Regions from separate parts of the Homo sapiens genome. Here region 2 is linked to region 1. Evidence: fine-mapped QTL for protein levels in blood plasma. Region 1 holds a variant in brackets. A gene starts in the other region. All regions are shown on one strand. Distances are between the middles of the regions.

The links. PIP is the posterior inclusion probability: the model's chance that the variant is causal. The UK Biobank Pharma Proteomics Project read protein levels with antibody pairs (Olink). The fine-mapping took linkage between variants from a reference panel, not from the people measured, so its PIPs are less certain.
Region 2: it holds the start of ENPP6, and the variant in region 1 is fine-mapped to the plasma level of the ENPP6 protein (UK Biobank, PIP 0.91).

What each region holds. Positions count from the first base shown.
Region 1 is chr4:16,130,620-16,135,993 of GRCh38, reverse strand. No RefSeq gene overlaps it. Among named protein-coding and RNA genes, the nearest start is that of PROM1, 49 kb to the right of the region's middle. The variant G/A (reference allele first, on the strand shown) is at 2,142.
Region 2 is chr4:184,215,653-184,221,026 of GRCh38, reverse strand. ENPP6 (ectonucleotide pyrophosphatase/phosphodiesterase 6) reads left to right here and starts at 3,154. Exons shown (of 8, transcript NM_153343.4): 1 at 3,154-3,448. The coding sequence starts at 3,208.

The DNA of each region.
Region 1 (5,374 bases):
GGCTGACCTCCAGCAAAAACTCTGGACACCAAGGCTCTGGTGAGCTTCACTGGTTGGCAATACTTGTGTTGCTACACATCAGCATTGCCAACATTGTGTTACCACACATCATTGTTGAAAGAGGTAATCACTGTCCACATATGCCACTGGGAGAGCACAATTGGAGGCTTATCCCTGGACCCTGCCTTGCGTGCCTCTTCTTGTTGCTGATTTTAGTCTGTGTCCTTTCACTGTAATAATCAAAACTGTAAGCATGACAGCTTTGCTGAGTTCTGTGATCCTTCTAGTGAATTACTAAGCTCAAGGGTGGTCTTAGGGACCCTTTCCCCAACATAAACTTGTATGTGGAGAATGGGCAACAGTCAAGAAAGGCTCAGCAGCAGAGAATGCCCAAGCAGGTCCCAGGGAAATATGGGATGGGACACTACCCCTGGGTTCCACTGGACACTCACTGCTGTTCCTGCCCTACCCTCACCTCTGCCATGGCCTCTCCATTCTGCCACCGCCACAGGAAATTGTCTCTAATAATCCTGCATCTTTGCACTTCTCCCTCAAGACTCAAAATCCTGGGAAGAAGCACCTAATTAGCTAAACCTGGTTGCTCGGGGTTGGGAGAGGATTTGCCTAGTAGAGGGAATCATGCTTCTCACCTGGATGAACACAATGGGAAATCCCTCTATCCCCCAAGTAAGAAGGGTGTTCCATGCTGAGAAGTCAAGAAAGATATTTATCGCAAATGAATCATATGGATTTTTCCATCTCCAGAACTCATCTCTGAAATTAAAGAGTAGAGGAAAACTGCTTGGAAGCAAGTGGGTTTCATGGGTGTGTGGAATCTATGCAGTTGCATGGGGCCCCAGACTCAGAATGACTCTGCCCTTATTTTAATGTTCTGTTACTGTCTTGAAATACTTAATTTTTCAGTAAGAGTCCCACATTTTGATTTGTATTGGGCCCTGCAAATTATGGAGCTTGTCCTGCTGGGAAAGCACCAAGCATCATGCAAATGCAAGGGCTGGCTATAACCTTCAAAATTACTTTCACAGCTGACTCTTTTTTTTTTAATTACTCATTTTGACTTAGACTTAAAGACACTACCATCTGTCCCACTGGTTATACCTCAAAAAAAAAAAACACCCTCTTTGGGCGCCAGTGGCTTTCTAAACACTAGACCCACTGGCCTGCTCTGCCGTTGTCTGCTCCATTTGACTTCGAGCTCTCGGTGCTTCCGCTCCATTTCTCTCTCCCTTTCCCTCCAGCCATGCTCCTCCCTGGATCTTGGCCATTCTACACTGCCCTACTTTGCCCCTATTTCTCCAGCTGCTGTTTCTTTGTCTTCTTCACTGGTTCCATTTGCTATACTTCCCCTCTGCCCTTCAAACCTGGATGTACCCCCAGGGAGAGTTTTCTTCTGTGTCTTTTCTCCTCTCTAGACATGCTGGATTTCTCTTGTGCCTTCAAGCAGTACTTTTCAGCTGAGGCTTCTAAGGTGGCTGTTCTGACCAGCTGTGGCTGCACCACGTGGATATCGCAGCAAGTCCACACCTACTATCATCAGCAGGGCCACATCTATCTACCCCATGGACCTCCTGATTCTACCTATGTGACCATCAGTCTTCCATCTTAATTGGTCTTAACTTCTTTTCTGCCTCCATATTGCTGTCATGTGGTGCCTTCTAGCTGTGTCTCACATGGTGGAAGGGGTGAGCAAGTTCCCTGGGGTCTCTCTTATCAAGGCATTAATCCTGTTTATGGTAGCTCTGCCCCCCACGACCTAATCAGGGCACTAATCCCATTCATGATGGCTCCTAACCCCCAGGGTAATGGTATTAGGAGGTGGAGCCTTTAGGAGGTCCATTACCTTTGGAGCTAGAATTTCAACATGTAGTTTGGAGGGGACACTAACATTCAGACAGTAGCATGACCCCCAGTGCAGATATTGTGAAGCCCCAACAGCCTTCTTGGATGTGGTAGTGACCTTGAGGGTACAACAGAATGAGGAAGCAAAAAAATAGAAACCAAATCCACAATGGCTATGGAGTCATCATTCTGCCCTGAGCAGTCCGCCTCCAGACTCCATTTACATAAGATAAAGATAAACATCGATTTTGTTTAAGCCACTGTTTAGTGTTTGCTTAGAG[G/A]CAAGAAAGCTAATTATAAGCCCTGAATGATACAGATGTGAAATGAGTCCCAAACATTGCAGACAAACTTCAACTGTGATTCTCTTGTCTTTCTACGAACTGAGAGATGAATGAATTTACACAGCTACCAAGAGTGCTGTGGGCACCCTGCAAGAGAATTCAAAAGAGAAGTGGGATTTTGACAAAACAAGTCAGATTCAAGATTGGGGACCACACAGGAGCACTGGGGATCTGCAAATGCTCTGTGAGGTTGTGTTTATAAATCCACTGTGACCCAACTAACATGCACTTTGGGATGCAAAGGGCCTAGTATATAAACAGAAGAACTACTTGCAAGCCACAGGCATTATTCTCAATGTGATTATAAATACAGCCTGGTGAGGCTTGGAGACATTGAGATTATGAGGAGTGTGTGTGTGTCCATGCATGTATATTCTAGAGGTGCCCGGTAAATATGCATTTGACCAGATTCCAAATTGGCAAATGGTAAAATCTGTCTCTGGTCAAAGCCAAGGCAAAAAGTGAATATTATAATCATAGATTGATGTTATGCAATGAAAAAATAAATCTGATATTTTATCCCAAATATATTAATTTAAAATTTGTTATTGTTAAAACAACTTAGTATTCAATGTTACATCTTGAAATTATAGTGTAGGAATCATGTGTCTTCATCATCAGGGGCTGTGTGGCTCCTAAATCACTAATTTGCATGTTTGTTAATACCAAATAGATACCCACTTCCCGCTATTGATAGAGGAAGATCCGTTTGGCCAGCTCTCCTAGGAATGGTAAGGTGTGGTTGATGGTAATGTTGTCAATGAATTATCAGGCTTTCCTCAAACGCCTTTCGTTTTTAGTAAGCAACTAAGGTCATGACTTACTGCCTCCTCACCTCCTTGACAGGAAAATTTGGTTCATGACGCTGATGCAATTTCATGGAAGCAATTTCATAAACTAATGTTTTGAGCACTTGAAGAAGATACTTCCACACAACTTTGATAACTTAGATAAAATAAACTAATTCATTGAAAGAGACTATAAGAACTAACATGGGAGAAATAGATAATCTCAATAGACCTATAGTTATTGAAAAATCAAATGGATAATTAAAATTTAAAAAAAGTAAAGCACTAGAATTTCAGTGGTGAATTCTGCAAAACATTTGAAGAAAAAAATACCAATTCTCCACAACGTCTTCCAGAAAACAGAAGCAGAGGAAATGCTTCTCTAACTCATTTTAAGAGGGCTATATTATCCTACTATCAAAACCAGATAAAAACAGTACAAGAAATAACAACTACAGACCAAATATTTCTCCATGAATATAGATGCAAAAACCCTTAACAAAATATTGGCAAAATCAAAACCATATATACATAAATATATATGTGGTTACAGAAATGCAAGGCTAGTTCAACATTTAAAAATCAGTGGATGTAATTTTTAGCAGATGGAATAAGAAAACCCATATAGTCACATCATGATGGAAATTCTCAAATATTTAGGATTAGAAAAGAACTTCCTTAACACAGTAAAGGTAATATTTTCTTTAAAAATCCTACAGCTAACAGCATACTATGGTAAAAGACTGAATGGTTTCTCTTTAAGATGGAAAATAAGACAAAGACAACTTCTCTTCACTCCTATGTCATACTGGAAGACCTAGCAATGGGACAAGAAAAGGAAAGAAAAGGCATACAGATTGGAAAGGAAGAAAGAAAATACTTCCTGAATATTTTATAAAGTGCCAGGCACAATGGCTCATGCCTGTAATCCCAACACTTTGGGAGGCCGAGGCGGGCAGATCACGTGAGGTCAGGAGTTTGAGACCAGCCTGGCCAACATGGTGAAACCCCATCTCTAATAAAAATACAAAAATTAGCCAGGTGTAGTGGCAGGCACCTATAATCCCAGCTACTCGGGAAGCTGAGGCACAAGAATCCCTTGAACCTGGGAGTCAGAGGTTGCAGTGAGCCGAGATCGCGCTATTGCACTCCAGCCTTGGGCGACAAAGCGAGACTCTGTCACAAAAAAAAGAAAAAGAAAAAAAAAAAATGTGCTCTTAAGATTGTTGCCCTTTCTTGCAGTTTTAAATTTCCTATACTTTTGCATGGACTTGACACTTTATACGATGCTTTGAGACAAATGTGTCCTTAAATTTTGGATCTAGAAATGTGGTAATAAAGCTAGGTAATTGGTTTTCAAGACAGTAAGATCCCACCAAAATTTCTAGTGCATCTCAGTTTTCATTGCATGCACACAGATTTCAGCCTTTCCCTGGAGTAGAAGTATAAGAGGAATGTTTATAATAGCTCAAAGGTGCCAGATATGACATTGAGGTGGGCATTTGGCTATTGAGCCTTCCAAAGGCCAAGGTTAAATGGAACTGTATATCTGGAAAAACACTGAGACCAAAGTCAAACTTCTATGAACCCCTAGTATACGCCTGGCTATTCCCAAGTTCTCTAACCTATGAGAAACCCTTCCTTTAAACAACCAGTGGGCCAGACATGGTGGTTCATGCCTATAACCCCAGCACTTTGGGAGGCCAAGGTGGACGGATCATTTGAGGTCAGGAGTTCGAGACCAGCCTGACCAATATGGTGAAACCCCATCGCTACTAAAAATACAAAAAAATTTAGCTGGGCATGGTAGCGCATGCCTGTAGTCCTAGCTACTTGAGAAGCTGAGGCAGGAGAATTGCTTGAACCTGGGAGGCGGTTCAAGCTGAGTACTCCACTCAGCAGAGGTTGCAGTAAGCCACTGTACTCCAGCCTGGGCGACAGAGCAAGACTCTGTCTCAAAAACAAAACAAAACAAAACAAAACAAAACAAAACAAAACGGAACAAAACAAAACAAAAAAACAACTAGTGTAGGCCCAAGCCCCAGATCATTTATTTGATTAGCAGAAAATACAGAGTTTTAACAGAGTCTCTCCGAGGGGTCCCAGAGGGACACCAACATGTTCCAAAATATGTCTTTCATGTGTATTGTCACCTCAATAACAACCTCCCTTCAGGCCTTGCTCACTCTCTGCAGATGTTCTCTCACTACTTCACAGCAGAAGCTTTCCCATGCCTGGATCCTGCCTCCCTAATCCCCAGACCTCAGTGGACTCAAGACTGGAAGAGTTAATAAAATATCCCTGTAGGCAATATCCTCAGAAGGTAATTAAAAATAGAAAAAGAAAACAAACCACTTAAACAGGACACAAAGTATCATGGCTCCC
Region 2 (5,374 bases), 170 Mb before region 1:
AACAATGATGACCCCACCCCAGATACATCACAACAATCTTTGTGGAGCCTTGGGAGCCTCTGGGGACCTGTGAACACGCTAATCTGAAGCAAGTTACTTCTGAGTTGACACCCACAACAGCTCAATGAGGCACTCAGGGAGCCATATTTTGAGTGTACCCTTGTTAGTAGTGGAGAAAAGTGGAAGTCCCTCTTATATTCATCTTTAACATTTGGAGTGCTTAACCTCTCCCAAAGTGAGCTCAGAAGCCATCCCAAAGTGAGCTCAGAGGCCATCCCAAAGTAAATCACTTGGACTTGCACTGTGACTCCAGCTTCGCAGTCCAGACAATCCCTGAGCCTCTCAGGAACTCACAGAGCACAGCTATCTGGGCCTCCTACCTCCATGGGCCCTCACCAGGGGAAGAAGTTCTCCTTCTAGCACATGTGATGTTCAGTGTCTAGGAGGCCCATCAACCCATCAGGCTGCATCTGCCTTTTCCCCTCCCCTCCCCTCCCTTCTCCTTCCCTTCCCTTCCCTCTCCTCCCTTTCCCTTCCCTTCTCTTCTCTTCTTCCCTTCCCTCCCTTTCCCTTCTTCCCATCCCTCCCTTTCCCTTCTTCCCATCCCTCCCTTTCCCTTCTTCCCATCTCTTCTCTTCCCTTCTTCCCTTTTCTTCCCTTCTTCCCTTTTTCCTTTCCCTTCCCTTCCCTCCCCTCCCTTCCATTCCCCTCACCTTCCCTTTCCTTCTCTTCTTCCCTTCTTCCCTTCCTTTCCCTTCCCTTCCCTTCCCTCCCCTCCCCTCCCTTCCCCGCCCCTTTCCTTCCCTTCTCTTCTTCGCTTTTCTTCCCTTCTTCTCTTCCCTTCCCTTCTTCCCTTCTATTCTTTTTTTTCCTTCCCTTCCCCTTCCCCTTTCCCTTTCCTTTCCCTTCTTTCCCTCCCTTCCCTTCCCCTCCCCTTCCCTTCCCTTCCCTTCCCTTCTTCGCTTTTCTTCCCTTCTTCTCTTCCTTTCCCTTCTTCCCTTCTATTCTTTTTTCCTCCTTCCCTTCCCCTTCCCCTTACCCTTTCCCTTCCCTTCCTTTCCCTCCCTTCCCTTCCCCTCCCCTTCCCTTCCCTTCCCTTCTTCGCTTTTCTTCCCTTTTTCTCTTCCTTTCCCTTCTTCCCTTCTATTCTTTTTTTCCTCCTTCCCTTCCCCTTTCCCTTTCCCTTCCCTTCCTTTCCCTCCCTTCCCTTTCCTCCCCTTCCTTCCCCTCCCCTTTCCTTCCCTTCCTCCCTTTTCTTCCTTTCTTCTCTTCCCTTCTGTTCTCTTTCCTTCTTCCCTTTTCTTCCCTTCCCTTTCTTTCTCTTTCTCCCTTCCTTCGTTTACTTTTCTTTCTTTCCTTTTTCTTTCTTTCTTCCTTCCTTTCCTCTTTCTTCTCTCTTTTCTTTTTCTCTGTTTATAGCAACAATACCACACAGCTCAAAGAAAAAAGAATAACATTGTTTTCAAAGTAACAACCTTTTAGGATAAACTCCCCTTTTCCTTATTTTTTAATAAGAAAAAAATTTAAATTTAATTATAAAAAGCATTACCTCTTATTGGAAAAAAGAATTCTGATCCTTGGCCAAGTCCCCTGAGAGGGGAGTGGTAATTTGGCCAATGTGTTTCTCTTTTGCAGCATAATTTAAAAAGTGACATGGTGATCCTGTGTTTGGGCTTGACTCAAATACAACAGAAAAAGAGAAGGAGAAAAGACACAAGCAGAGGGCAGAGGTGGAAGAGGGATTTTGGGGTTGACTGAGAGTGGCTGGTGTGGCTGGTGTCTATCTTCCTTCCCTGGAAAGTTTGCCCAGAGCCTGCAAGTTTCCTCAGGAGACAAGCAATGTTATAATGCGAATAACATCTAACATTTGTTCAACACTTGCTATGGACCATGCATGTTTTATGTCTTTTTTTTTTTGAGGCAGGGCCTCACTCTGTTGCCCAGCCTGGAGTGCAGTGATACAATCACAGCTTACTGCAGATATGACCACCTGTGCTCACACAATCCTCCCACCTCAGCCTCCTGTGTAGCTGGGACCAGGCACGTGCCGCCAGGCCCAGCTAATTTTTTAATTTTTTATAGAGATGGGGTCTTGCTGTGTTGCCCAGGCTGGTCTCAAGCTCCTGGCCTCAAGCAATCCTTCCACCTTGGCCTCCCAAAGTGGGCCACTGCACTCAGCCATGTTTTATAAGCCTTCACATGAATTGTGTTGTTTAATTTTATGTAGCATGACGGAGCCACTCTAGGGAACCCCTGGACTCTGGGTACTTTGTGCTAACTCTGTCTGCTCCCCAGCTCACATCTGCCTCCCTGTCACTAACCTCCTCCTATTTTCCACTCCGCCTAGTCTTCTCGGTCCCAAAGCCTGCATGGTAATTTCTAGCTCTGCTTTTCCATCTCAAGCTCTCAATCTCCAGCTCTCTATTTCATTTCCATCCTCCTGGGGCAATGCTGCTTCAGACCATTCTGCCAGTAATGATTTCCCATTGTCCAACTCTGGAAGCTTCTCATTGGCTCTAGGGCTCTTCTACGAACCACCTCCTCCTATGGGCACCAGCAGCTAAATCACATTTGAAAAATAAAATAATAACAAATAATAACACTGCATATAAAAACATAAGTGGCCAAGACATAGACAAATAACTTTTTTAAGTGCTGTGTCTACAGAGACACAGCTGGGAAGTTTACAAATGGGCCCACCGAAACGTATTGTTTCCTGTTTATGCACTGAGTCCAGAGGTTTGCGTTACTAAATTCTAAGTGAAAAAGAGTTTAAATGAGGCCATGATGTGGGATAACAGCAAATTAAAATCTTGCCCTTTTCCTTGGTTCCTCCCTTTGGTTAGCTCAACTGCAAAGTTAGTGTTGACTTTGTCATCTTCTAAAATTCCACCTCTGTGGGTGCTTGTATTTCTGGAACGTTCACCAAAAATAATAAGTTTGAACTCTCTCCCCTGGTGTTAATTCTGGGTTGTTTGGAACCCAGTTTATCTGAAGGAGTCGGTCTCTGGACTTTCTAGTAAAGGGTGAGCATAGATGTGTGGAAAAGGGGGTGCTGTTCCTTTAAATTCTGCAAGTGAACTTGACTCAGGAAGGCCAGCGGCTCAAGGTCCAGCCCCTGGAAGAGAGAATAGCTACAGATTCTCCATCCTCAGTCTTTGCAAGGCGACAGCTGTGCCAGCCGGGCTCTGGCAGGCTCCTGGCAGCATGGCAGTGAAGCTTGGGACCCTCCTGCTGGCCCTTGCCCTGGGCCTGGCCCAGCCAGCCTCTGCCCGCCGGAAGCTGCTGGTGTTTCTGCTGGATGGTTTTCGCTCAGACTACATCAGTGATGAGGCGCTGGAGTCATTGCCTGGTTTCAAAGAGATTGTGAGCAGGGGAGTAAAAGTGGATTACTTGACTCCAGACTTCCCTAGTCTCTCGTATCCCAATTATTATACCCTAATGACTGGTGAGTACCATGTCCTCTTCTGGGCAGGGAGGGGAGGGCTGGCATCCAGCAGGGAACAGTGAGCTCCTGGCATTGGAGTCTTATTTAAATGCTCTGGATTCTCTAGTCCTTTGGGACATCAAAGGTAGATAAAAAAAATCTGTGTTCTTGGCTGAGAAGACTTTTGTTTTCGTGGCGGTATTGTTTCCCAAAAGTTATCCCAAGGACCTGTTTTGGATTCTCAGTGCGGAGGACAGAGAACTATAGCAGTACATGATATTTGACGATATTAAAAGTGGTCGTTTATTTTAGAAAGAGAAATTCTAATGAGGCTCATATTTTCTAAGTTCAAGTCTGCAAAAGCAACAGGTGTCCGTGCATGTGTCCCAAACTCCTTCTGTCCCTTTTCTCTGTGGTCATGTCATCCTGGCACCCTGTGGGCTTGTTTCTCAGTGTGTTGGACTGTGAAAGTACCTGTGGGGTCCTCAGAGGGGAGTGGTGCTCCCGGATTACTTGGGGAAGGGGGGATGTTTAGGTCATATCCTTCCCTGTGACTTAGCAATGCCACCTTCCCCTTCTTTTGCCTTTTTGGCCAGGTAAAATGATACGGAGAAGAAAAAGCTTGTGTCGTTCAGGTTCCCCATTTGTGATTTGCAGCATCTACAAAAGACCAACCAGCAAAAACTCCACAAAACAAACAAAAACCTCGGCTAACCCAGACTGCCTGGGCTTGGGATAGCTGATTTTCCTAAGGACGGCCTTCATCTGAAATTGCCAGGACTCCAAACGCGACTGCATGAACCTGAGCCTCTATCCGTGCGATAATAGAATGTGCAGCCCTCTCTCTGCTCACAGAGTTGGATTCCCAGTTTCTGGTTTGTTTTTCAGCTATAACCTTTGTAAAGGCAGCGAGAGGCTCTCAGAAAGAATTTAGCAAACTATCCAGGGAGGCTGCTAAGAATGCACTGTTATTGCTGGTTATGCGGGACTCAGCTATGCACTCTGAGCACAGAGAGAGCTCTGCTAATTATGTTAACAGAAAGAAAATGAGATCTCTGATATCTCATGGACCTCCACAGAACACTAAAGCCAAAAGAGTCTAAAACAGACATTTATATCTCTGACTTTGTGCATAGATACTATATACACATGTACGGAAAAATGCCATAAACTGATGCCCCAAACTGAAGGGGAGAGATACTTCGGAGAAATAAAAATGAGGGCATGAGAGAGAGAAAAAAATCAGACTGCACACAAGCAAGGAAGTTATGTATTTGTTTTTTATTTCCCCCAGCAGACAAAAAAACAGTCTCTAAGATAAACAGAATTAACAAAATTCTCTGGCCCTCCCCTGGCATGTGTCTCCCCTTGCAGGGAAGCAGTTTGCAGGCTGCCGGCTCTCACATAGACGTGATTGTGTGGACAGCCGACTCCAGCTCTGTGCAGCGGCTTCACACACACAGCCCACCCCCACTCCAGCTGTCTTTCAGAGCCTTGCCAGGGGACCCAATTCATAAACTGCCACGCCACGTGCAGCTTCTGCAATCTTAGTGGAAAATGAACAAAATCCATCTTAGAAAGGACTCAAGTAAGTAAAAGGACCATTACAGACTCCACAGAGACACTAAGCCAATGACATGGCCTTTTGTTTGTCAGATCCACACTCCTGATATTGGCACAAGGAATAATTTGCACACAGCCTCCGTCATGCTGAGACACACCTTCTTTTCCGGCTGTGGGTGTTTTCCCTTGTGCTGTCCTGAGAGAAGGGCCCCTTCCTTTATGGGCAGCACAGGTCCCGTGAGTGTCTGACAAAGATCTCACCCTTGCTTTCAAACTGAGGCTGGCCCGAGGAAGCCACAGGTCTCCATATGTGTTAAGTCTCTGTATTTTCAGATGGCCAAATGTATTCACTGATGTGGAAGTCTGCTTGGTCTATATGTTTCA